Homo sapiens: one gene and its partners. The protein of the gene in region 5 purifies or fractionates together with the protein of the main gene of each other region. This does not show direct contact. Each region holds a gene or a part of one and is shown on either strand. Other genes may lie near its edges.

Region 1 (3,500 bases), on a different chromosome or scaffold from region 5:
CTGATTGAGAAACACGGCTCTAGGCTCTCCCTCCAGGCTGGTGGACACAGCATAGGGAAGCCCAGAGAGACCATGGTAGTGACGGGGGACTAGGGATTGAATTATGGGCTTGGATACACAGCCCTCAAGGTCTTCGAGGTGGGGCCCACTCCTGGGTGCTGTGGCTTCTGGGACCCTCAGGGCCTCCAAGTCCTTCTGCACCCAGCATATCCTGGCAGTGGGGTCTCATCTCTGATAGCAGAGGCTCCTGTGGTGGCTCAGAGCTGTCACCACGTGTGGTTTCCAGATGGGTCACCTACGCATCTCCCCGGAGCCTGCTAGAAATGCAGCACCAAGCGGGTGCGGTGGCTCACTCCTGTTATCCCCGCACTTTGGGAGGCCGAGGCAGGTGGATCTCGAGCTCAGGAATTTAAGCCCAGCTGGGCAACATAGTGAAACCCTGTCTCTACAAAAAATGGCAAAAAAAAATTAGCTGGGCATGGTGGCATGTGCCTGTAGTCCCAGGTACTTGGGAGGCTGAGATGGGGGGAATCACCTAAGCCCGGGAAGTCAAGGCTGCAGTGAGCCGTGATCATGCCACTGCACTCCAGGCTGGGCAACAGAGTGAGACCCTGTCTCAAAAAAAAAAAAAAGAAAAAGAAATGCAGCACGCTGGGCCCACCCAGACCTGCTCTAGCAGAAGGCCTAGAGTGGTGCCCGTAGGCCTGTGTTTTAACATGCTCTGCTGGTGGTTCTGATGTGGGCTAAGTATACACAAATCACAGGTTAGCTGAGTACGTGGGGCATCTTGTTCAAATACAGATTGTCATCCAGCAGGTCTGGGGAGGGGCCTAAAATTCTGTGTTTCTAACAAGCTACAGCTGATGCTGGGGCTGCCCCCCTGGAACCACACTTTGAGACACGAGGCTACAGATCAGAAGTTGCAATGTGGCCACCCCATGGCTGACCACACCCCAGGGATGGCTCTAGTGTAGTTGGATTTGGCATAATGAGGCAGGTGTCACACTTGGTCTCCATACAAGCCCTGCTGGCTTCACACACCGAGCTTCCAGCCAGGTCTCTGTAGACTTCTGAGTTTGCAACCTCTAGTCTGGATGAGAATGCTCTGTTAACCAGAACCCTCAGCTAACAAGACACCCATTCCCTACGGGCCCTGATGGCTGCTAAGTTTACTGAACTTTTGGGGGGTTGGAACGTATCTTGAATGCATCCAGGTCTAAATTGCCTCCTTCATCCCATTTCCCAGATGAGAAGATCCAGGAAGATAAATGGCAACCATATTAGTCCAGGTTTTCTGGAGAAACAGAACCAATAGGATATCTATCTATGCAGAGAGAGAAATGTATTTTCAAGAATTAGCTCATGCGATTGTCGGGGCTGGAAAGTCCAAAATCTGTAGGGCAAGCCAGAAGGCTGGAAACCCAGGCAGGGTTTCTATGCTGCAGTCTTGGGGCTGAATTCCGTCTTTGAGAAACCTTAGTCTTTGCCCTGAAGGCCTCTGATCAATTGAATGAGGGCCACACATAATGGAGGGTAAGCTGCTGGACTCAAAAGTCTACTGATTTAATGTTAACTGCATCTAAAAACTACCTTTATTTGACCAAACAACTGGTCACCAAAGCCTTGCCAAGCTGACACATAAAATTAACCATCATAGCAATCTTTAGTTCCTAGGAGATCTGTCATGGGGCAGGAAAACAGGGTGTTAGGGCAGGAGCTCTGGGCTAGCCCTTCTTAAGTGTGGGAGCTCAGAGAGCCCACCCCCACCCTGTCAGCTGCAAGAGAAGGGTGAAGGTGGGTGTGGCCATGCTGATGGAGAGATAACCATAATAAAATGAGAATAATAATGCCTGTCCCAGGTCCTTGAAATTCTATAGCTTCACAACATCCCCAAATGAGGTGTTATCATCAGCACTCCCATTCTCCAGGTGAGTAAACCAAGGCTAGGAAGTTGAATCACTTACCCACATGGTTCTGGTCCTCTGGCTCCCAGCCCAATACCACTCTACCTATTGGGCCTCCACTAATGTGACTCTGGACAAGTCATTGGTCCTTCTGTGTCTCAGTTTAGTTTTCTCATCCAACACATGGAAATTACAAAATGCTTGACGCACTGCAGATACTGGCTCAAAATGAGAAAAACCTCTCCATGGCTTTCGGCTGTTCTCAGGACAACATCCAGGTTCCCTGATGAAGCTCTCAAAGTCCCCTCCCTCACACTTTTGGCTCTAGCTCTGCTGTTTGCCACACACAGTTTCAGCAAGTATTTTTCGTGCCTCCCTAATTCTGCATATGCTGTTCCATCTGCCTGGAATGCCCTTCCCCCTTCTTCACTTAGTGATTTCTTTCTTCAAACTCAGCTCAGTAAAACCAAATGCAGCCGGGCATGGTGACTCATGCCTGTAATCCCAGCACTTTTGGAGGCTGAGGTGGGCGGATCACTTGAGGTCAGGAGTTCGAGACCCAGCCAACATTGTGAAACCCCATCCCCACTAAAAACACAAAAACTAGGCAGGGCATGGTGGCTCACACCTGCAATCCCAGCACTTTGAGAGGCCGAGGCAGGTGGATCACAAGGTCAAGAGATCAAGACCATCCCGGCTAGCATGGTGAAACCCCATCTCTACTAAAAATACAAAAATTAGCTGGGCGTGGTGCACGCGCCTGTAGTCCCAGCTATTCGGGAGGCTGAGGCAGGAGAATCGCTTGAATCCAGGAGGCAGAGGTTGCAGTGAGCCGAGATCGCACCACTGCACTCCAGCCTGGCAACAGCAAAACTCCGTCTCAAAAAAAAAAAAAAAAAAAAATCAAAAATTAGCCGGACATGGTGGCGGATGCCTGTAATCCCAGCTACTCAGCAGGCTAAGGCAGGAGAATCACTTGAATGGGGGTGGGGTGTGGAAGTTGCAGCAAGCTGAGATCGCGCCACTGCACTCCAGCCAGGGCAACAGAATGAAACTGTCTTAAAAAAAAAAGCACTATGCACCCACCCCCACCCCCAGGACGGCCAAAATTTTAAAAAGCTGACCATACCATGTGTTGGCAATAATGCAGAGCAACTGGAACACACACAGGTTGCCAGAGGGAGTGGAAATTGGTGCAACCACTTAGGAGAAACATTAGTGCCCAACGAAAACACTCACGTATGTTCACCCAAAGATACACACAGGAATGTTCATGGCAGTGCTAATCCAAATAATCCCAACTGGAACTCCCCACCCAAACCCCCATGATTGGAAGAAGGGAGACATAACTGGTGAATGAACACACAGCAGACCACATACAGCCAACTTGAAGGAAGAACACAGGTAGCAATAACACGGATGGGTCTCACACGTGCTGTGTGAAGGGGGCCAGAGAGAAAGGAGTATGTCATCCTATATGATTTCACTTAGGTGCCCTTAAACATGGACAAAACAAATCTATGCTGCTGGAAGTCAGGATAGCAGTAGGACACGTGGACGGGTGTTACTGACAAGAAGGGGACACCGGGGGCTTTG
Region 2 (3,500 bases), on a different chromosome or scaffold from region 5:
GTGATCCTCCCACCTCAGCCACCTGAGTAGCTGGAACTATAGGCAGGTGCCACCACACCGGGCTAATTTTTGTATTTTTTGTAGAGATGGGGTTTCGCCATGTTGCCCAGGCTGGTCTTGACTTCCTGGTCTCAAGTGATCCACCCACCTCATCTTCCCGAAGTGCTAGAATTACAGGTGTGAGCCACCACACCTAGCACCCCTTTTAAATATCTCTAGAGATGGATCCATGTGAAGGCTCCTAGTATGTAAATTTTGTGTATCTGTTCATTATTTTGGGAACTGAGTTCCATACCTTTCATTAGATTTGTTAATGGGCTCAGAACCACAAAAAAAGTTAAGAACTACTTTTTATCAGAATTACAAATGCATATACTTTTTGATCTACTAAGTCTCTCCTGGGCCTTCATTTTATAGATAATGATGTATAGACACTAATCTCCTCTTGTCTGCAGTTTCACTTTCTGTGGTTTCAGTTATCCGTGGTCAACTGCAATCCGAAAATATTAACTGAAAAATTCCAGAGAGAGACCACATTCGTATAACTCTTATTACAGCATCTTGTTACAATTGTTCTATTTTATCATTAGTTATTGTTAATCTCTTAGTGTACCTAATTTATAAATTAAGCTTTATCATAGTTATGTGTGTATATAAGAAAAAACATAGTATATATAGGGTTTGGTGCTATCTGCCATTTCAGGTATCCACTGTGAGGGTCTTGACTAAGGGAGGACTACTGTACAAGATTATTCACTGAGGCCAGGCACGGTGGCTTAACGCCTGTAATCCCAGCACTTTGGGAGGCCGAGGCAGGAGGATCACTTGAGGTTCAGAGTTTGAGACCAGCCTGGCCAACATGGCGAAACCCCATCTCTACTAAAAATACAAAAATTAGCTGGGTGTGGTGGTGCACGCCTGTAGTCCCAGTTACTCAGAAGGCTGAGGCAGGATAATTGCTTGAACCCAGGAGGCAGAGGTTGCTGTGAGCCCAGATTGCACCACTGCACTTCAGCCTGGGCGACATAATTAGACTCCGTCTCAAAAAAAAAAAAAAAAATTATTCATTGCAACATTATTTGTAATAACAAAAGACTAGAAACCCAGATGTTCATTAACACTGGACTGCTTAGTGTATTCAATATTTATATAATGGAAAATTGTGTAGCTTTGAAAAAATGAAGATCTCTATGTACTGCTATAGAAAAATCTCCAAGATATATTAATGATAAAGAGGAAAATACAGAACAGTGTGTATATGGTATAGTTTTTGTATTAAGTCAGGGGGAGAATAAGACCATACGTTTGCCCACATATATGGTATGCCTAAAGAAACAAAGGGTACACAAGAAACATAAAGTGGTTATTAATAGGAAGTAGCTGGTAAGGGAAGGTAGTAGCAGTGGGAGTGGGACTCCTTACTGTATACTTTCATATATTGTTTGATTTTAGAACCGTGTAAATATATTACTTAAAAACAAAACACTATTCTAACCAATCTAGCCCACCTATTTCTGTTCAGTAGCAAAAGAACTGTGTTCTATCTAAAATGTTGTTGCCTGCACAGATTTTGGAGAAACTGGCATAGATGTATTTTGGTCATAAGAGTGTAGATAATTCATATTTGAACTGAAACTTGTGTCTTAAAAGCTAGTTTTTCAATGTTAACAGGCTGGAAATATTGTTAATACAAAAACCTATCACTGTGTACCTTATGGTACACCAAATAAACAAGGTAAAATTATACAAATGTATCATTAAAAAGCAGCAGTAGAAAACCATGACCATGCAGAGGTAGCCCTAATCATGCTCTGAAAACAGTTCTTTGTTTCTAAAGTCCAGTTGTGTGCATTCCCCAGGCTGGCTCTGCAGAGTTATCAAGTGCTTCAGAGCAGCCTCCTCTCCTGAGGCTGAATATGAACCTGCCATTCACTCTGTTATTGTCTAGTTTTAGTTAGGAACATGAGGTGATCATAACTATACTTTGTAGGTTATTAGGGAATATAATTTTACATGTTGTAGTCATATGTAAAGGTAGAAGTTTGTGGACTCCAACCCCAGTTTATTCTCTCTCTAGATTTGCTTTTCCTCCTGTGTCACTAGATACAAGGTCTTCCTTGGTCTGTGTACGGTTTTCTTCCCACTCCTTTATGATTTTGGGGGAGTTCTCATTTTAGGAAATTTACATTTTTAAAAAATATGTGACTTTCCAACATGGCACATATATACATATGTAACAAACCTGCACGTTGTGCACATGTACCCTAGAACTTAAAGTATAATTTTAAAAAAAGTGACTTTCATTATAACTAAATTATACCTCAGAGCTGGTGTACACACCTCCATATACATTGACAAAAGGTAGTATTTGCTAAGCTCCTGGTATGTGGCAAACGCTGGGTAACTGCTTTACCTAGAAGTGATTTTATTTAATCCTTCAAGTGCCCTGTGGAATAGAGATTAGTATCCCCATTGCACATGTGAGGAAACTGAGGGCTAGAAAGGTTCTGTATTGGATGCCTGTGTATGCCGAGGCACTAAGTAACTTTCATCTTTTAGTTTCCCATTTAAGGAATCTATTCTGGCAGATGATTTTGATCCTGTTAGTATTGATTGCTTTCAGATGCCTATTTGTAAACTGACTTAAGTAAAACCAGCATTACCCATTATTCTTGAGGAATGAACTGTTCTGGTCAGCTGGGCTTTTTTGATTAACTGAGAACGGAAAGCCCAGTTTTTGTTTTTGTTTTTTTATTTGGGAGTTTTTTCTTAAAGTCTCTATAAAATAATCTAGATTCACTTTCATATCTGTGTGACTAGCCTAGTAGACAGTCTATGTGTGATTCTGCTTGTAGCTTTTGGGATAAAGCCTAAAAGTTGTAGTTCCACACATGAGGTTGTGCAGGATCTGACCCTTCCCAACCCTGACCATAATTCCTACTCCATTCCCTTACCCGCACGATTTTCTCCATTCAAATGCCCTGGGAAGGCCAAGCTGGTGGACATAATTAAATCACGAGTGGATGAGGAAAGTCTTAGTCCTCTGAATGTTATCATTCTTGAATTGCGCTCCAGTAGTGAATGCCTTTATCTCAGGTGTGTGTATCAGTCAGCTTGAGCTGCCATAACAAGGTACCGTAGACTAGGTGGCTTAACTAACAGACATTTATTTTTCTCACAGTTCTGGAGGCTAGAAGTCCAAGATCAAGGTGCTGTCAGGATTGGTTCCTGGTTGAGGCCTTTCTTCCTGGCTTGTAGAAGGCCACCTTTTTATTGTATCCACATATGAATTTTCCTCTCTGTCATTGAGGAGAGACGGAGATCTCTGGTGTCTCTTCCTCTTCTTAGAAGGACACCAGTCCTCTCGGTTTAGGGCCCCACACTTTGTAACCTCATTTAACCTTAATTACTTCCCTGTATTAGGCAGCAGTCTCCAGAGAGACAGAAGCAGTAGGATTTATGAGGTGGGATTTGTTAGGGGAATTGGCTCACACGATCAC
Region 3 (3,500 bases), on a different chromosome or scaffold from region 5:
TCTGTGTTTTCCACAATCTCTTGGAGACCAGAGATCTTTTGGAGACCAGGTGTTCTTATTTTTAATGGAAGCCAGTGTAGCCTAACAACCTAAGAACACAGGCTCTGGGTTCAAATCTCCACTGAGCACCTGCTAGTTGGATGAATTGGGCAGGTTACTTAACCTGCCCCTGCCTCTGCTTCGTCATCATAAAATGAGGATAATGGGACTTCACTATGGTATCGTCGTGAGCATTAGATGGGTTGAAGCCTTTAACATTTGTAGAACTATGCCTGGCACATTGCAATAGACGATAGCTGTTATCTATCCTAGTCGTGTGCTACAGAATGACCAATTTGGTCAATGATGCACCACATATACGACAGTGGTCCCGTAAGATTATAATCCATTTTTTATGGTACCTTTTCTGTGTTTAGATATGTTTAGATACACAAATGCTTACCATTGTGTTACAAGTGCTTACGGCATTGAGTACAGTAACATGCTGTATAGGTTTGTACACTAGGAGCAATAGGCTATATACCATATGGCCTAGGTGTGAAGTAGGCTATGCCATCCAGGTTTCTGTAAGCACACTCTATGATGTTTGCACAACAATGAAATTGCCTAGTGACACATTTCTCAGAATGCATCCTCGTGGTTAAGTGCATGACTGTATTATTGATAAAGTCATCTGCCTTCTCGATCTTCTCATCACTTCTGAGAGTTGTAGATAAATAGCTCTCCCCTCAAAACAGCCTAAAATTGACTTAGCTTTGCATTGCTAAAGAAGAGGAAAAGCCTCGAAGTTGGGATGTTTAAATAGAAACTTTCAACAAGAATCTTTTGCTCCTGCTTCAGATTGAGAATTCAGCAGAGGAGTTTGCCTTGTACGTGGTCCATACGAGTGGTGGTAAGTCTGAAGACCACAGTGTACTTTAAAACTTCTAATTAACTCAAAATAGCAAGTTAAAAAAATACCTCTGCCTCCTTTGCTTGTTGTTTGAGTTTTGGAAACTTCCAAATGTTGTTTGCCTTCAAGGCTGATGGGCTTGCTGTATGAGTCTACTAGGGATTGCCTTATATGGCCAGTAAACAAATTCTAAACCTAACTGCCTATTAAAAGAGGAACTAGATTTTCTTAAGAGACAGATAAACCCAATTCCTCCAAGGAGTTTGAGGCATGGTGGTATTGTTGAGGGGTGAGGAGTGGGAGGAAGTTGCTTTTCACAACACCTATGGAATAGTTCACTTATAAATCAGTCTCCTGACGTATATGGCGGCATCTCCTAAGGTGCCTTTGGACCCCTGCATTAACCACTACTTAATGTGAGAAAGGCCTCTCAGGGCTGCTCCTGGGTGTGTGTGGTTGCAGAGAAACAGAAGCTGAAGGCCACCGATTACCCGCTGATTGCCCGAATCCTCCAGGGCCCATGTGAGCAGATCTCCAAAGTGTTCCTAATGGAGAAGGACCAGGTGGAGGAAGTCACCTACGACGTGAGTTCCCTTTGGGTCAGGCGATCTGTCCTCAGGAGGGTGGGGATTTGGTTGGACCACCTGTAACTGGGGTATAGAATGACTTTTTTGACCAACGACCATGCCCCCTTTTACTTCTTCAGCACCAGGTTCTCTCGAAGCCAGCTTTTGCAGAGTAACAAACATCTCCAAATCATAGTAGCTGACAACAGCAAACATTTGCTTTTTTGCCCATGATTCTGTGGTCTAGTAGCAATGGCTCTACTCTAAGTATGGGTTGAGTTCAAGTCTGCACTGTGTGACTCACCCAGAGGCCCAGGCTTTTGGGGCAGTAGTTACTGCACATGGGTGTGGTCCTCATGGCAGATGGCGGAGCATGAGAAACCAGGCCAAATCATGTAAGCATATTTGAAGCCTCCACTCAGATTTGGTGTGTCATGTCCACACACATTCCACTGGCCAAAGCCAGTCACATGGACAAGCTCAGCATTAATAGGGTAGAGAAATGTACTTATCCCAGGGAGAAGAGTTGATAGAGCAGGGTGGGGATTCTTGTGGGGAAAGGGAAGCCATTTTTTAACTTTTTTTTTTTTTTTGGGATGGAGTCTCGCTCTGTTGCCCAGGCTGGAGTGCAGTGGCACCTCCCTGGTTCAAGCTATTTTCCTGCCTCAGACCCCTGCGTAGCTGGGACCACAGGTGTGCACCACCATGCCTGGCTAATTTTTGTATTTTTAGTAGAGACGGGGTTTCACCATGTTGGCCAGCTGGTCTTGAACTCTTGACCTCAAGTGATCCGCCCGCCTCAGCCTCCCAAAGTGCCGGGATTACAGGCATGAACCACGATGCCTGGCACCGTTTTTAAACTTTAACTCACCCCATAGCCACCCACAGCCTCTCCAAAGCGAGTTCATATTTGGATGCTTGTTTGAGCCTTGAGACCCAAATCGTCATCTGGAACCCTGATTCCTTCCATTCTCTTAGGGGAGAACAAAGGGGTTTATTAAACATAATGGGTTCAGTTCTTTCTCTGCATCACTGTGTCAAAAGAAAGTACTTTTCTGTGTTTGGCTTCACCTCATCATGAATTGAATGCATGACATGAAAAATGAGAAGTTATGAGATGGTGTCACGTAAGCGAAGCGATCATCGCAGACTCCTTCCCACCCTGGTGAGGAATGAGGCTTGGCTGCTGCCTTTAAGGAAATCCTGGGTTTCTGAAAAAAATAGACTTCCCAAGGCTTTGTGCCTTGTATAAGGACAACCCTGAAAGGAATTGGAATAATGCTGGGAAGGGCATTCACCCAGACTTGCTTCTTTCTCTCTAGGTGGCCCAGTATATAAAGTTCGAGATGCCGGTACTTAAAAGCTTCATTCAGAAGCTCCAGGAGGAAGAAGATCGGGAAGTAAAGAAGCTGATGCGCAAGTAAGTGTGGCTTCTGGGGCACTGGGTGCACTTCTCCTGGGGCCTCAACAGAGGGGCCTCTGCTGGGTCCTCGCAGGGACTGTGCTGAGCTGCTGCATGGGCCTGAGTCTCGGCTTTCTTTGGAGGGCTGCCCATTGACAAACCTGGATTTCAAGTGAGGACGTGACAGTTAAGTGTGTTCATCTACTTCTTGTGTCAGCTTCTCGTTTTGATGTGGGACATCAAAGTGTCTCTTGTCCTCCCTCTTATGGAAAGACTCTGAAAAGAAGGTGTTGGTTTAAAATTTCTTTGGGGTCTAGATGCAGAAATAGGGAAGGTGACTGTACGCTGGTTTCTTAAGTATACGATCAGGCTCCCAGCAGGAGACAGATGCTCACTCCGATGAGGGTCTTTGACGGGTGTTTGAAGAAGGGACTATTTGCGAAGACTTGGGCAGAGTCTGGGGTAACCTCAAGGGATAGTGCAGTCCCTGGGGCTAGTGTTACCACCCCTTGCCTGAAGGGGTGAAGGCAAGGAGTGCTAACCAAGACCCGGAGGTTCCAGGGATTTCAGGAAGGCTGTCTTAGCCGTGGATGTAGCCTGAGCTACTGGCCTCCAAAATCCTCTCCTCTCCCCCTTCCTC
Region 4 (4,232 bases), on a different chromosome or scaffold from region 5:
ATTAAAATGAGTAATCCTAAGAGTTCCAATTCAGTTATCAGATGGTACCCTGCCTTTGGGCGTGTCCTCGAAAAGGCTTACGTTTTCCAAGGCAGGCAAAATGAGGTAAGTAGGGGTAGCCATTATGAAAGGACATCTTAGAAAATGTTAACCAGGAAAAACGTTAATGAGGATATTGCAGAGATTTTAGGTTGAGCATACTCTTGAGTTAAAGAAATCGGTTACTTATGAGGAAACCTATTATGTGGCAGGCATAGATGCTGGAAATACAAAGAGTTGGACAGGTCTTGCTTTCAAGGAAGCTTCTAATAATTATACAAATAACTACTACAATATGAGGCTGGTATTAGGCGGGGGCTTGCACAAATTCCAGGGAAAGCTTCTTAACGTGGAAATGGGAGGAAGAACAACAATATGATGCATATTAAATCCAAGAGAAGGAGCAGAGTCATTTAGATGTCATTTCAAACTTACAGTGACATTGGCTCTTGCTGGGGGGGAAAGGGGGGCGAGAGAGGCAGCCGTTGCCAGACATACGTCACACTAAAGAGACAAGATGAAACAAGGAAATTCTCTTTCAAAACATAGCGGGGAAAAAAATATCCAGAACTGCCCTGAAATAAAGAAAACCTTCTGGTATAATGTGCGTTGCTAGGGATTTATTTTTTCCCCTCCTTTCTCTCATAAGAGAGTAAAAAATCACACAGATACGTTCAAGCCCTTAAGAGTTTTGTGAGCCTATTGAATATCCAAGACATCAACTGACCACGGTGTGGTTCAGTGTGTGTCTACAAAGGAAGGGTTAAACGGAAGGGGGTGGCTTGGAGATAGAAAGGCAAGCAAGAAGGTTGGAAAATGCTGTTTTCCAACTTGCAAAAACTGAACTTTTCAGCTCCCCAAAATACACGTGTGTGTCTGTAAGCGCAGGCAGATCTATTTCGGTAGGATTTTTCTTAAATTTAAATCATAATTTCTCTGTTTCTGTCTCTCTGTCTCTTGCTGCGCTGCAAAGAGTGAGCAGCCCCCTTAAGGATCGCGTGGCAAAAGCTGCAGGAGAGGCACTGGCAGGGCTGTTTATTTATGAGCCGCGTTCAAAGCCGACCTCTTCCCATTCTCCCACTGCAAACGACTATCTCCGAGCCCAGGTCACCTCTGGGGCCAAGGAGTTGGGGGCTGGGGCTCGGGTGGCTCCTTCTTCGGGCCAAGTTTGCCCGCGCGTGGGAGCGAGGGGGCGAGCCAGGGCGCACGGGAACGCGCGCCGCCAGCCGCCGCCTCCGCCCAGCGCTGGCAGCCCCGGCCTCACCTCTCCCCTCTCCCCAGCGAGGTGCGGGCTCCCAGAGCGGAGCCAGGGGGCGGGCCTGGGCCTCGAGGGGCGGGGTCAGGGGGCGGAGGCTCGGGCGGCTATATAAGGCCCGCGCCGGCTCAACTTCGGACTTGGTGTTATTTATTTGGGAAGCGCCCGGACGGCGGAGCTTGGCGGCGGCGGTGGTGGTGGCTGCCGCAGACTGTGGTTAAAAAAAAGAAGGCGGCGGCGGCGGCGGCGGCGGAGGCGGAGGCAGCTGCGAGGCATGGGAGCGCCGAAGCGCCCAGGCGCAGGCCGAAGCTGCCGCGCTTTCTGGGCACGGCGGGAGTGCTGAGCAGAAAGGGGAGCGCCGGGGGCCCGCAGCCGGCTCCGGAGGCGCGGGCCGGGTTTTTGTTTGGCTACGCTGAGCGCCAGTCAGCCCCAGCGAACAACTCCAGTTACGACAACAACCCACCTTCCTTCCAGACAAGCGAGACTTGGGCTGCTGCGTCCGTCCTATTGTTTAGACACTTGCCAGGGGCTCCGGAGTCGGCAGAGCCACCGAGTCCCCGCTCTGAGTCGTCGCCCTCCCTCTCCCCGACCTCGCTCCCTGGAGCGGGAGGCCAGGAAAGCAGCGGGAGAGGGGAAGGGGCTAGAAGGAGAAGGACTACCCGGGACTGCGGCCGCCGCGTCAGGTGCAGCGCCAGGAGCCGGGCGGCGTCGCCACGCCGGCAGGGGTACCGCCACTGTGGCCTTGGGGGACGGAATTCAAAGCCTGGGAAAAGTTGCTGCACTTTGAGAAGGACGAACCACTAGTGGGAGACCGCCGGGGGCCGGCCGTGGCTCTGCGCCCTCCGGAACCCGGCTCTTGTTTCTTCTACCTTTGCCATCAGGTGTCTGCCGCGGAGCTGCGGCTTATCTGGGAGACGAGCGGGGTTGACACGCGCGCACACACTACTGCCATTCAGCTGCCGCCTGGCTCTGCCTGGAGTAGTGGATCCCACCCGCCCACCTGCCACCGAGCCATTCTCCAGTACGCCCCAGCAGGACGCTGACACCTCCAACCTTGGCCTTTGCCTTTCCACTCCTTCCGGTCTGCCTGGTTTTTAAGTCCGCCCCCAGTCAGTCCCCACTCAGTCTTCGCAGCAGCTCTCATCCTCCACTTGGCCTCTTGGAGTTCCTCGCCGGAGTGCTGACTAGTGGATATTTCTGCCCGGCTGCGGCGGCCCGACTGCCCTTTTGTCTTTTCTGCGTGACCTCGGGGCAGGTCCTGGTGCAGAGCGTCGCCAAGGACGCCGAGCGGGAGGCGGGATTGCCCAGACATCCTTCAGCGAAGTGCATGTGTGTTTGTAAACCATCGTTGGCTGTCGGGAGACCGCGAGGACCGGTCCAGGCTGCGGCGGAGTCGAGGGCGAGGGAGAGGCCGCGTGAGTGAGCAGAGTCCAGAGCCGTGCGCCCCCAGAACTGCGCGTCCGCCCCGTGCACCCCCGCGCGCCATGCCCAGTTGCCCCGCGCGCTCTGCTACGGGCCCGCTGGGCTTCCGCGCCTTCTAGCTTCCGGAGCCCACTTTGATCGGGGCCATAATACCTATTGAGATCCCCTCTTCTGTCTTGTACCTTCGCCACTGGCATCGGATTTGCAGAAGCGTGCGTGGGATCAGAGGACCGCCCTCCCCACAACAACCGGCCCCTGCATCTTAGCAGCCGTTGGAAGCCCCAGCTCTTTTACCGCCAAGTTCATCCTTGGGAGACAGAAGACGCGTGATCTCCTCTCCGCTGCTCTTGGGGTCTCCTTGCAGCCCTGGCCAGGCGGATTCATCCTCAGGACCTAAAGTTGCCCAAGGAGCTCCTGCTCTGCCAGAGGAGGGTGGAGAGGGCGGTGGGAGGCGTGTGCCTGAGTGGGCTCTACTGCCTTGTTCCATATTATTTGGTGCACATTTTCCCTGGCACTCTGGGTTGCTAGCCCCGCCGGGCACTGGGCCTCAGACACTGCGCGGTTCCCTCGGAGCAGCAAGCTAAAGAAAGCCCCCAGTGCCGGCGAGGAAGGAGGCGGCGGGGAAAGATGCGCGGCGTTGGCTGGCAGATGCTGTCCCTGTCGCTGGGGTTAGTGCTGGCGATCCTGAACAAGGTGGCACCGCAGGCGTGCCCGGCGCAGTGCTCTTGCTCGGGCAGCACAGTGGACTGTCACGGGCTGGCGCTGCGCAGCGTGCCCAGGAATATCCCCCGCAACACCGAGAGACTGTGAGTATGCGCTCTTCGTCTTCCCCTCTCCCCATCCGGGCCGCGCACCCCTGCCTCCACTGGAGGAACCTGTCAGCTCAGGGTCCTGTGCCTGGGGCAGCCCTCGCTAGCTCTCCCCCATGCACATCCTGGGGTTGAGCTCTCCGGGAGGGCACTGGCCAGGGAAGGGCCTCTGTCCAAGGAGGGGCGGGTCCGCTGGCAGCTGCGCTAGTTCTCCCTCCCCTGCTCTCGTCCCGCCACTCGCAGCTCCTTGCTGGCTAGTTCTCTGGGGCTGGGGAGCGGGTAGATAGGGGACAAGTACTGGAGGATGCCCGGGGCAAGTGAGACGCCACTTTGTTCTCCAGAGTCCATAAACGGAGTCACCTTGCGATTGCCAGCATCCAGGTCGGTTTCAGAGCCCAGTCCTCGCTCTTGTCGCAGGCTGGCGCGGAGGGGATAGCAGGGAGACTCAAAAGAGAGAAACTTGCCTTCCCCGATTTTTTGTCACCCTCCTGGGGGCGAAGGTTAGGAAGAAGGGGTCATGGAGTGCCTGGGGGTGCTTCTCACAGGTCGCGGGGAGAAGGGTGCCCCAGGACGGCGACACCTCGCATAGTAGCCTCGCGCAGCCCCCCGCCCCCCACTTCTCCGGGGAGGGGAAGACGGCGTCAGGCCCCTAGGGACTTGTCTCAGCGGGCGACTGCGAGGGAGGACCGTGTCCCATCCGTTAAGCG
Region 5 (3,500 bases):
GGGAAGACCAGAAGGGTGAGAGGGGCCCTGAAAGTTCATATGGTGGGTATGTCCCGCAGCAGAGTGAGGAGATGAAGCTTACGTGTCCTGACGTTTTGTTGCTTATACTGTGATATCTCATCCTAGCTAAGCTCTATAATGCCCAAGACCCCAAACAGTACTTTTACTTTGTTTGTACAAAAACAAAGACATATAGCCAATACAAATCAAATGCCGGAGGTGTTTGATGCCATATTTGCAAATTGCCATCTATTGAAATTCTCGTCACACTACATAGACATAATTGTTATCTCCTTTTGGCTTATGTGATTTTCTGTTTACAAGTAGAATAGCCAATTATTTAAATGTTTAGTTGCCACAGTGAACCAGGAGTCACTGAGCCAATGACTTTACCAGCTGCTGACTAATCTTCATCACCACTGTAGATTTTGCTGCATGTGCAGGTCCTCTATTTTTAATTGCTGTTTTCGTTGCTGCAGTACTTTACAAACTTCTAGTTCGTTGAGACTTAGTGACCATTTGGCATCAAGTTAACATCACACAATAGGAAACACCACTTCCACAAGTCTCAAGCCTCAGTGCTAAAGTACTACTGAAAAGGAACTAGGAAGTTTGGCCAATTAAAAAAAAAAAGTAAAATAAGTTATAGTGGTCAGGGAATCTCTTGACGAAAGCTAACTCTTATTTTTCAGGGGGCACATGTTTTGTTTTGTTATGTTTTGTTGTACAATGAAGGATGAACCCAATGCTAAAAAGTCAGTTATTTTCTTGGTTTTCCATTTCTTGTATATAAATTGTGTTGGAGGTGGGTAGGAAGCTGTGAGTATGACTTGAAGAAAAATATCCTTTTCAGTGACAAATCAGAGTTTCTTACAAGTTATTGTCCTGCTCCCTTCCAAGTTGTCTTGAAGAATCCTTGCTGCTAACTCTGGATCCTGCTTTTCCTATAGTCAGAGGGCTCCAAGGTAGAACTCTCTAAGTCCCTCTCAATGGCACTCTTTGCCTAGACCAAACTAATGACCAAACAGTAATCAATCTATCACTGTTGAAGTCCTGGTTTTCTCAACCAAATTTTAAGTCTTTCCCAGGTATGTCAGTCGAGTTGCCATGAATCCTCACCTGTAGGAGTTTCTGGGATTCATTTTAAGGAAACTGGAAGAAAATTAATGTTTTAATGTAAATGTTTTTAAAACCAAGATCACCATAGAGTTCACACAAAATTTTAGGCAGTGTTTCAAGAAGCACTCTTATGTGTTGTTCTTTCAGCCCATGCTCCAGGTCACCGGTTTTTAGGTAAACATGACATGACATGTACTTGTAATATCAGTGAAAGGGGCTTTTAGTCGTCTCAGTATCTTTTTTGCATTCAGGTATTATAGCGTTTCCAACAAATTGAGAAATTACTTATTTGGTGTAAAATGACGAGAGAGCTTTAGAATTTAATAAAATGTCAAAAATACAATTTGATACCCTTAAAAATTATTCATAGATCTGGCTGCTCTGTACTACTGGATGGGTGGAATAGGGAAGCAGATCACTTTTGCATACAAAAACTCTTTCAAACCCAAAATATTATTGGTGGTACATTTTAAAGTCCAATTGTGGACTTAAATTAGTCAAATTGAGAGTTACTGAGTCCATTCAGATCTCCAGTAGGGTTTTGTATCTAATGTATTTGGCCACCAGTTTTACATGTAGGTCATGACTATACCTGGATTTTATCATTAAGTTAACTTTAAAGTATATACAGTTTGCAAAAAATGATTCAAATTAATTGGTTTGTATATGTTTGTGAGATCTAGCTTCTGAGGAATCTCATACATAGTAGGAACCATCATAGAGTAAAGCTTGTAGCAGAAAAATTGGAAGGGTTTTGAGATATCCTAGAGAAAGAGCAAGCACTTTCTGAATCAGTGGGGAAATATCAATATTTGATCAAATTAACACTACCTCCTTCCCAGTGTTGGTGTTCACTCACTATATGTCTTTAAGAAAATTAAAACTATGGAAAATTTGTCTAGCATATCAGAAGTTGTAAATGCTATATCTGGTATCCAGAGGCTGGCTGTAAAAAGTTCCTTGGGGTCACTCTATCTCACATTTTTTTTGGTTAGCATTTTAAAAATGCAAAGCCACATACTTTGAAATATATTATTCCAAATTGAGCTCCCTTCCCTTTGCACATATTTTTTCCTCCCCTTATTGAAGTCAGCTCTAACCCCAAATTCTAGTATCCAAAAGTATTTTTATTTGTATAATGCTATCTGAAAAATGTGTTTATATTATATTTTCAGAGCTGCAATTCTTATTCGCCATTTCAATACCTAGAGATAGAGAGTCTTGTATTTGAAGCCACACACACTGGTGTAATATGCTTAGTACTCTAGGTCAAGGATTTGTTGGTAAATGGAACATTTTAGCATAGTCATGATTTTTGGTTGCCTAGACATCAGGTAAACATTCAGTACACTAAAGAAACTATCCTGGACACTCCCTCCTGCTTCCACCAATTTTTTTCTCACCCCCTTTTCAAAAATTGAAAACTCTATGAGTGTCTTTTTGAGACCATAAAGCAGACTTTAGTAACTTTCTATTTCTGTAAGTACTAAATGTCTGGCATTTTAAACTTTTGTAGAATACATTATGTTGGACACTGGAATAATACTATTTATTTTCACCTGTGAAAAATGACTTCATTGTACTTGAAACACCTCCTTTGCATTTCTCCATTTGTGCCATTCACTAGTGGAAATAAATTGTATTATACCATGATCTACTGGCTTTTTAAAACTGTATTAAATATGCACATTTTTGGTATAGCTATTATCATTTGTATGTATATATTGTATATACATATGAGTGTCTGTATGTGTGTATAGATGGATGGATGTAACTCATACTGTACATTTCCATCAGGGCACTTAAAAGTTCTGTTATTTTTGTTTGGTTTTGTTATTTCAGTCCTCAGTTAAGGCAAGAATGCATGTGTTTCTTAAGAATGAGTACTCTGCGTTGATGTTTATGAGAAGGTGGTCATTAGATGCAGTCTTTTCCTTTTTAATCCCCTCTTAGCACTTCTGTGAGTGGAGAGGACATTAAGTAAAATTTGGAATCATAAGTTGCAATGCAGTAAAATGGTGCTGGGGAAGGAGCCAGTTAGTGTTTCTGTGAGTTTGTGTTGTGATGCAATAAGAGATAAGTAATGCAGAGAGAAATGAACCATGGAAAGTAAGAACACTGATGGTGATTCCTCTGCAAAGATGATAAGAAAAAGAACCAATAAATCACACAATCTTTATGTGCTTTCTATATGTATTTCTTAGTAGTGATACCATTGATCCTCTTACTTTTTTTACTCCATTAATACTAATAATTATATACTTTGCTGAGGATCAAAACAGCCAAGAAAGGAATTACTGCTAAAGCATCTAAGATTCTCCTGAACTGTAAAATCAACAGGAAATGGCCACTGGGAGAGAAGGATTTGGTATTGGGTGAGG
Region 6 (3,500 bases), on a different chromosome or scaffold from region 5:
GATTACAGGCGTCCGCCACCGCACTTGGCTAATTTTTTGTATTTTTAGTAGAGATGGGGTTTCTTCATGTTGGCCAGGCTGGTTTCAAACTCCTGACCTCAAGTGATCCGCCCACCTCGGCCTCTAAAAGTGCTGGAATTACAGGCGTGACCCACCGCGCCCGGTGAGTTCTTTTCATTTTAGTGTTTAAAAACACTTCCCTCTAGTTCCTTGTATGTTGTTGGAGGGCCTTAACACCACTCTCAACTTTGGCCATGTGTTAAAATCACCTAGGATTTTGTTTGGCTTTACTTTCATGACCAGGCCTGACTCGACCTAAGATTTGACCTTGAGAGTTACCCCAACAGTTACTGTGTGAGCGGAGGGGACGGGCCATCAGTTGGGGTGACAGGGAAAGGGCTGCACAGTGCTTGTCATGACCGCATCCCTTGCTTCTTCCCAATTTGTTCCTGGCTGTAGTGAAAGTCACAGAGTCCACAGGATGCAGGACTTCGATGGCCAGGTGGTCCAGGTAAGAGAGATGGGCCGAGAGCTGCTTGTTGTGTTCCTGGGGTGCTTTTGAAAAGTTGAGATTTGGGTAGGGTGATGGCAAATTTGTTAGGGGGATTTTCTGAATTAAATTATTTTAGTAAAAATTGTAGCCTACTTACTATAGGCCAGGATTTATGCTAGATTCTAGGGATACAAAGTTTAATAAGATTTTGGGGCCGGGTGTGGTGGCTATACCTGTAATGCCAGCACTTTGGGAGGCCGAGACAGGTGGATCACCTGAAGTCAGGAGTTCCAGACCACCCTGGCCAACATGGTGAAACCCCGTCTTTACTAAAAATACAAAAATTAGCCGGGTGTGGTGGCACATGCCTGTAATCCCAGCTACTCAGGAGGCTGAGGCACAGGAATTGCTTGAACCTGGGAGGTGGAGGCTGCAATGAGCTGAGAGATTGCACCACTGCACTCCAGCCTGGATGACAGAGCAAGACTCTGTCTCAAAAAAAAACAGATTTTTGGGGATGACACTCTAGTGAGTGAACAAGTTAAAAAGCTAACTGAGGCCGGATGTGGTGGCTCACACCTGTAACGTCAGCCTCTGGGGAGGCTGAGGCAAAAGTATCACAGCACTTGCTGTATTCATGCATATGTGCATTGAAATATTTATGATAGGTACCTACCATGAGCCAGGCACTATTCTGGGGATGAGAATAAAATGGAGAGCAAAATACAGCTGGCTTAGAACACCACAGCACTAATCATACTGTGATACGGCTGGCTTTTTGGTTTTATTTGGAAATTTTTTAGAGGCAGGGTCTCATTCTGTTGCCTAGGCTGGAATGCAGTGGCACGATCATAGCTCACTGCAGCCTTGAACTCTTGGGCTCAAGTGATCTTGCCTCAGCCCCCTGTGTAGCTGGGTCTACAGGTGTGCATCACCATCCTCGGCTAATTATTTTAAAGAGACAGATTCTCACTGTGCTGGCCAGGCTGGTCTCAAACTCTTGGCCTCAAGCCATCCTCCCGCCTTGGCTGCCCAAACTGTTGGGATTATGGGTTAAGCCACCATGTCAGGCCTCCTTCACCTATTAGACTGAGTGACTTTGTGCAAGTTACCAGACATCTCCAAGATAGTTTCTTTTTCTTTTTTTTTATTTTAGTGCAGTGGCACAATCTCAGCTCAGAGCAACCTCTGCCTCCTGGGTTCAAGCGATTCTCGTGCCTCAGACTCCCGAGTTGCTGGGATTACAGGCATGTGCCACCATACCTGGCTAATTTTTGTATTTTTAGTAGAGATGGGGTTTCACCATGTTGGCCAGGCTGGTCTTGAACTCCTGACCTCAAGTGATCCACCTGCCTTGGCCTCTCAACGTGTTGGGATTACAGGAGTGAGTCACTGTGCCCAGCTGAGATTCAGTTTCTTACTAGGTGGTTTTGGTTATTGACTTAACACAATGCCTGGTGTAAAAATTGTTCAATAGATGGTGCTTTTCTTTAGGCAGTTAGAAAAATGAGTTTGGAACTGAGGAGAGTTGTTGAGACCAGAGATCACAGTGCAGAGGCCACAGTTAAGCATTGAGAATGGCTCCCATCTCCCAGGGTAGCATGAGGAGTGAGGAGAGAGGAGGGCAGGAGACACACCCTGGAGAGAGATCCCAACAGCAAAGGGTCTGAAGTAGAGGCTGAGTGTGTGAGCAAGGCTGGAAGCTGTGAAAGTAGAAGAGAGGGCTGGGAGGAGAAGGGTTATGGAGAAGGGGTGGTTCTTTGGAGATGGCGTGGGATGGATGGCAGAGCTCTTGGATTTGCCCCTTTGGAGATCTGCATTTTACTTTAACAAGAGCAGTTTCAATGCAGTGGGAGACTGGTAGATTGAGAAGGAGTAAGATGAGCATGGAGCAGTCTGCCTGGACCATGCTCCAGGTGCCCAGGAGCGGCAGGCGATGGTGCTGGTCCTTCTTTGGATGAGGACACCAGGGTTCTAAGTATTTCCTCTCATCCCCCTTACCTCTGTTTGTCTGCTAGGTCGCCTGTGGTCAGGATCATAGTCTGTTCCTGACGGATAAAGGAGAAGTCTATTCTTGTGGATGGGGTGCTGATGGGCAAACAGGTAGAGTTCTTTTCATGCACTGGGGTCGTGAAACTTCTCAGCCCGTGTCATGTGGAGCTGTGAGCTGTAGGGCATTTATGGGCTAGAACCCTTCTTCCTTAATTCAGCTCTTACCTCTTATCACTTTCTGAGGAACACTATTCTTGGCTCCATCGCCCAAGCTGGAGTGCAGTGGCGCGATCACATCTCACTGCAGTCTCAAACTCCCAGGCTCAGGTGATCCTCCCACCACAGTCTCCAGAGTAGCTGGGACAACAGGTGTGAGCCACCAAGCCCAGCTAATTTTTTGTAACAACAGGGTTTCGCCATGTTGCCCAGGCTGGTCTTGAACTCCTGACCTTAAGCAGTCTGCCTGCTGTGGCCTCTTGGTGGGCTGGGATTCCAGGCAGGAGCCACTGTGCCCTGCTGTAATACTTTTTTTTTGCATCCCTTCCATTCCCCTCAGCCCTGGCTCCCATAGAAATGAACTGAGAGAAGGCTGGGTGCAGTGGCTCACACCTGTAATCCCAGCACTTTGGGAGGCCGAGGTGGGCGGATCACTTGAGGTCAGGAGTTTGAGACCAGCTTGGCCACCATGGCGAAACCCCATCTCTACTAAAAATACAAAAATTAGCTGGGTGTGGTGGCACACGGCTGTAATCCCAGCTACTAGGAAGGCTGAGGCAGGAGAATGGCTTGAACCCGGGAGGCGGAGGTTGCTGTGAGCCAAGATCGCGCCATTGCACTCCAGCCTGGACAACAGAGCAAGACTCTGTCTCAAAAACAAACAAACACAAACTGCAGAGAAAAGGACAGGCAGGACCTGCCCAAAGGCAAATGTCATTATTGGCACTTGGTATGGGGGTAACCCCTGGCCAGCAGCCCAAGGCAGAGCACTGAACTGTAGACTCTTGCCTTCATCCAG

The links.
Region 1: the proteins of TAOK1 (region 5) and CPNE2 purify together in Homo sapiens (co-immunoprecipitation; one large-scale study listed by IntAct). This does not show direct contact.
Region 2: the proteins of TAOK1 (region 5) and TRPC4AP purify together in Homo sapiens (co-immunoprecipitation; one large-scale study listed by IntAct). This does not show direct contact.
Region 3: the proteins of TAOK1 (region 5) and RASSF2 purify together in Homo sapiens (affinity purification with mass spectrometry; one large-scale study listed by BioGRID and IntAct). This does not show direct contact.
Region 4: the proteins of TAOK1 (region 5) and SLIT2 purify together in Homo sapiens (affinity purification with mass spectrometry, with the first as the bait; one large-scale study listed by BioGRID). This does not show direct contact.
Region 6: the proteins of TAOK1 (region 5) and RCC1L purify together in Homo sapiens (affinity purification with mass spectrometry, with the first as the bait; one large-scale study listed by BioGRID). This does not show direct contact.

What each region holds. Positions count from the first base shown.
Region 1 is NC_000016.10:57,099,083-57,102,582, reverse strand, and holds part of CPNE2 (copine-2), read right to left. Parts: intron 1-3,500.
Region 2 is NC_000020.11:35,040,808-35,044,307, reverse strand, and holds part of TRPC4AP (short transient receptor potential channel 4-associated protein), read left to right. Parts: intron 1-3,500. UniProt on the Homo sapiens protein: Substrate-recognition component of a DCX (DDB1-CUL4-X-box) E3 ubiquitin-protein ligase complex required for cell cycle control.
Region 3 is NC_000020.11:4,785,609-4,789,108, reverse strand, and holds part of RASSF2 (ras association domain-containing protein 2), read left to right. Parts: intron 1-840; coding exon 841-892; intron 893-1,354; coding exon 1,355-1,476; intron 1,477-2,780; coding exon 2,781-2,878; intron 2,879-3,500. UniProt on the Homo sapiens protein: Potential tumor suppressor. Acts as a KRAS-specific effector protein. May promote apoptosis and cell cycle arrest. Stabilizes STK3/MST2 by protecting it from proteasomal degradation.
Region 4 is NC_000004.12:20,250,473-20,254,704, forward strand, and holds the start of SLIT2 (slit homolog 2 protein isoform 1 precursor), read left to right. Parts: upstream 1-1,432; 5' UTR 1,433-3,343; coding exon 3,344-3,522; intron 3,523-3,760; exon of another isoform or gene 3,761-3,829; coding exon of another isoform or gene 3,830-3,906; intron 3,907-4,232. UniProt on the Homo sapiens protein: Thought to act as molecular guidance cue in cellular migration, and function appears to be mediated by interaction with roundabout homolog receptors.
Region 5 is NC_000017.11:29,543,863-29,547,362, forward strand, and holds part of TAOK1 (serine/threonine-protein kinase TAO1), read left to right. Parts: 3' UTR 1-3,500. UniProt on the Homo sapiens protein: Serine/threonine-protein kinase involved in various processes such as p38/MAPK14 stress-activated MAPK cascade, DNA damage response and regulation of cytoskeleton stability. Phosphorylates MAP2K3, MAP2K6 and MARK2.
Region 6 is NC_000007.14:75,060,303-75,063,802, reverse strand, and holds part of RCC1L (RCC1-like G exchanging factor-like protein), read left to right. Parts: intron 1-459; coding exon 460-511; intron 512-2,511; coding exon 2,512-2,596; intron 2,597-3,500. UniProt on the Homo sapiens protein: Guanine nucleotide exchange factor (GEF) for mitochondrial dynamin-related GTPase OPA1. Activates OPA1, by exchanging bound GDP for free GTP, and drives OPA1 and MFN1-dependent mitochondrial fusion. Plays an essential role in mitochondrial ribosome biogenesis.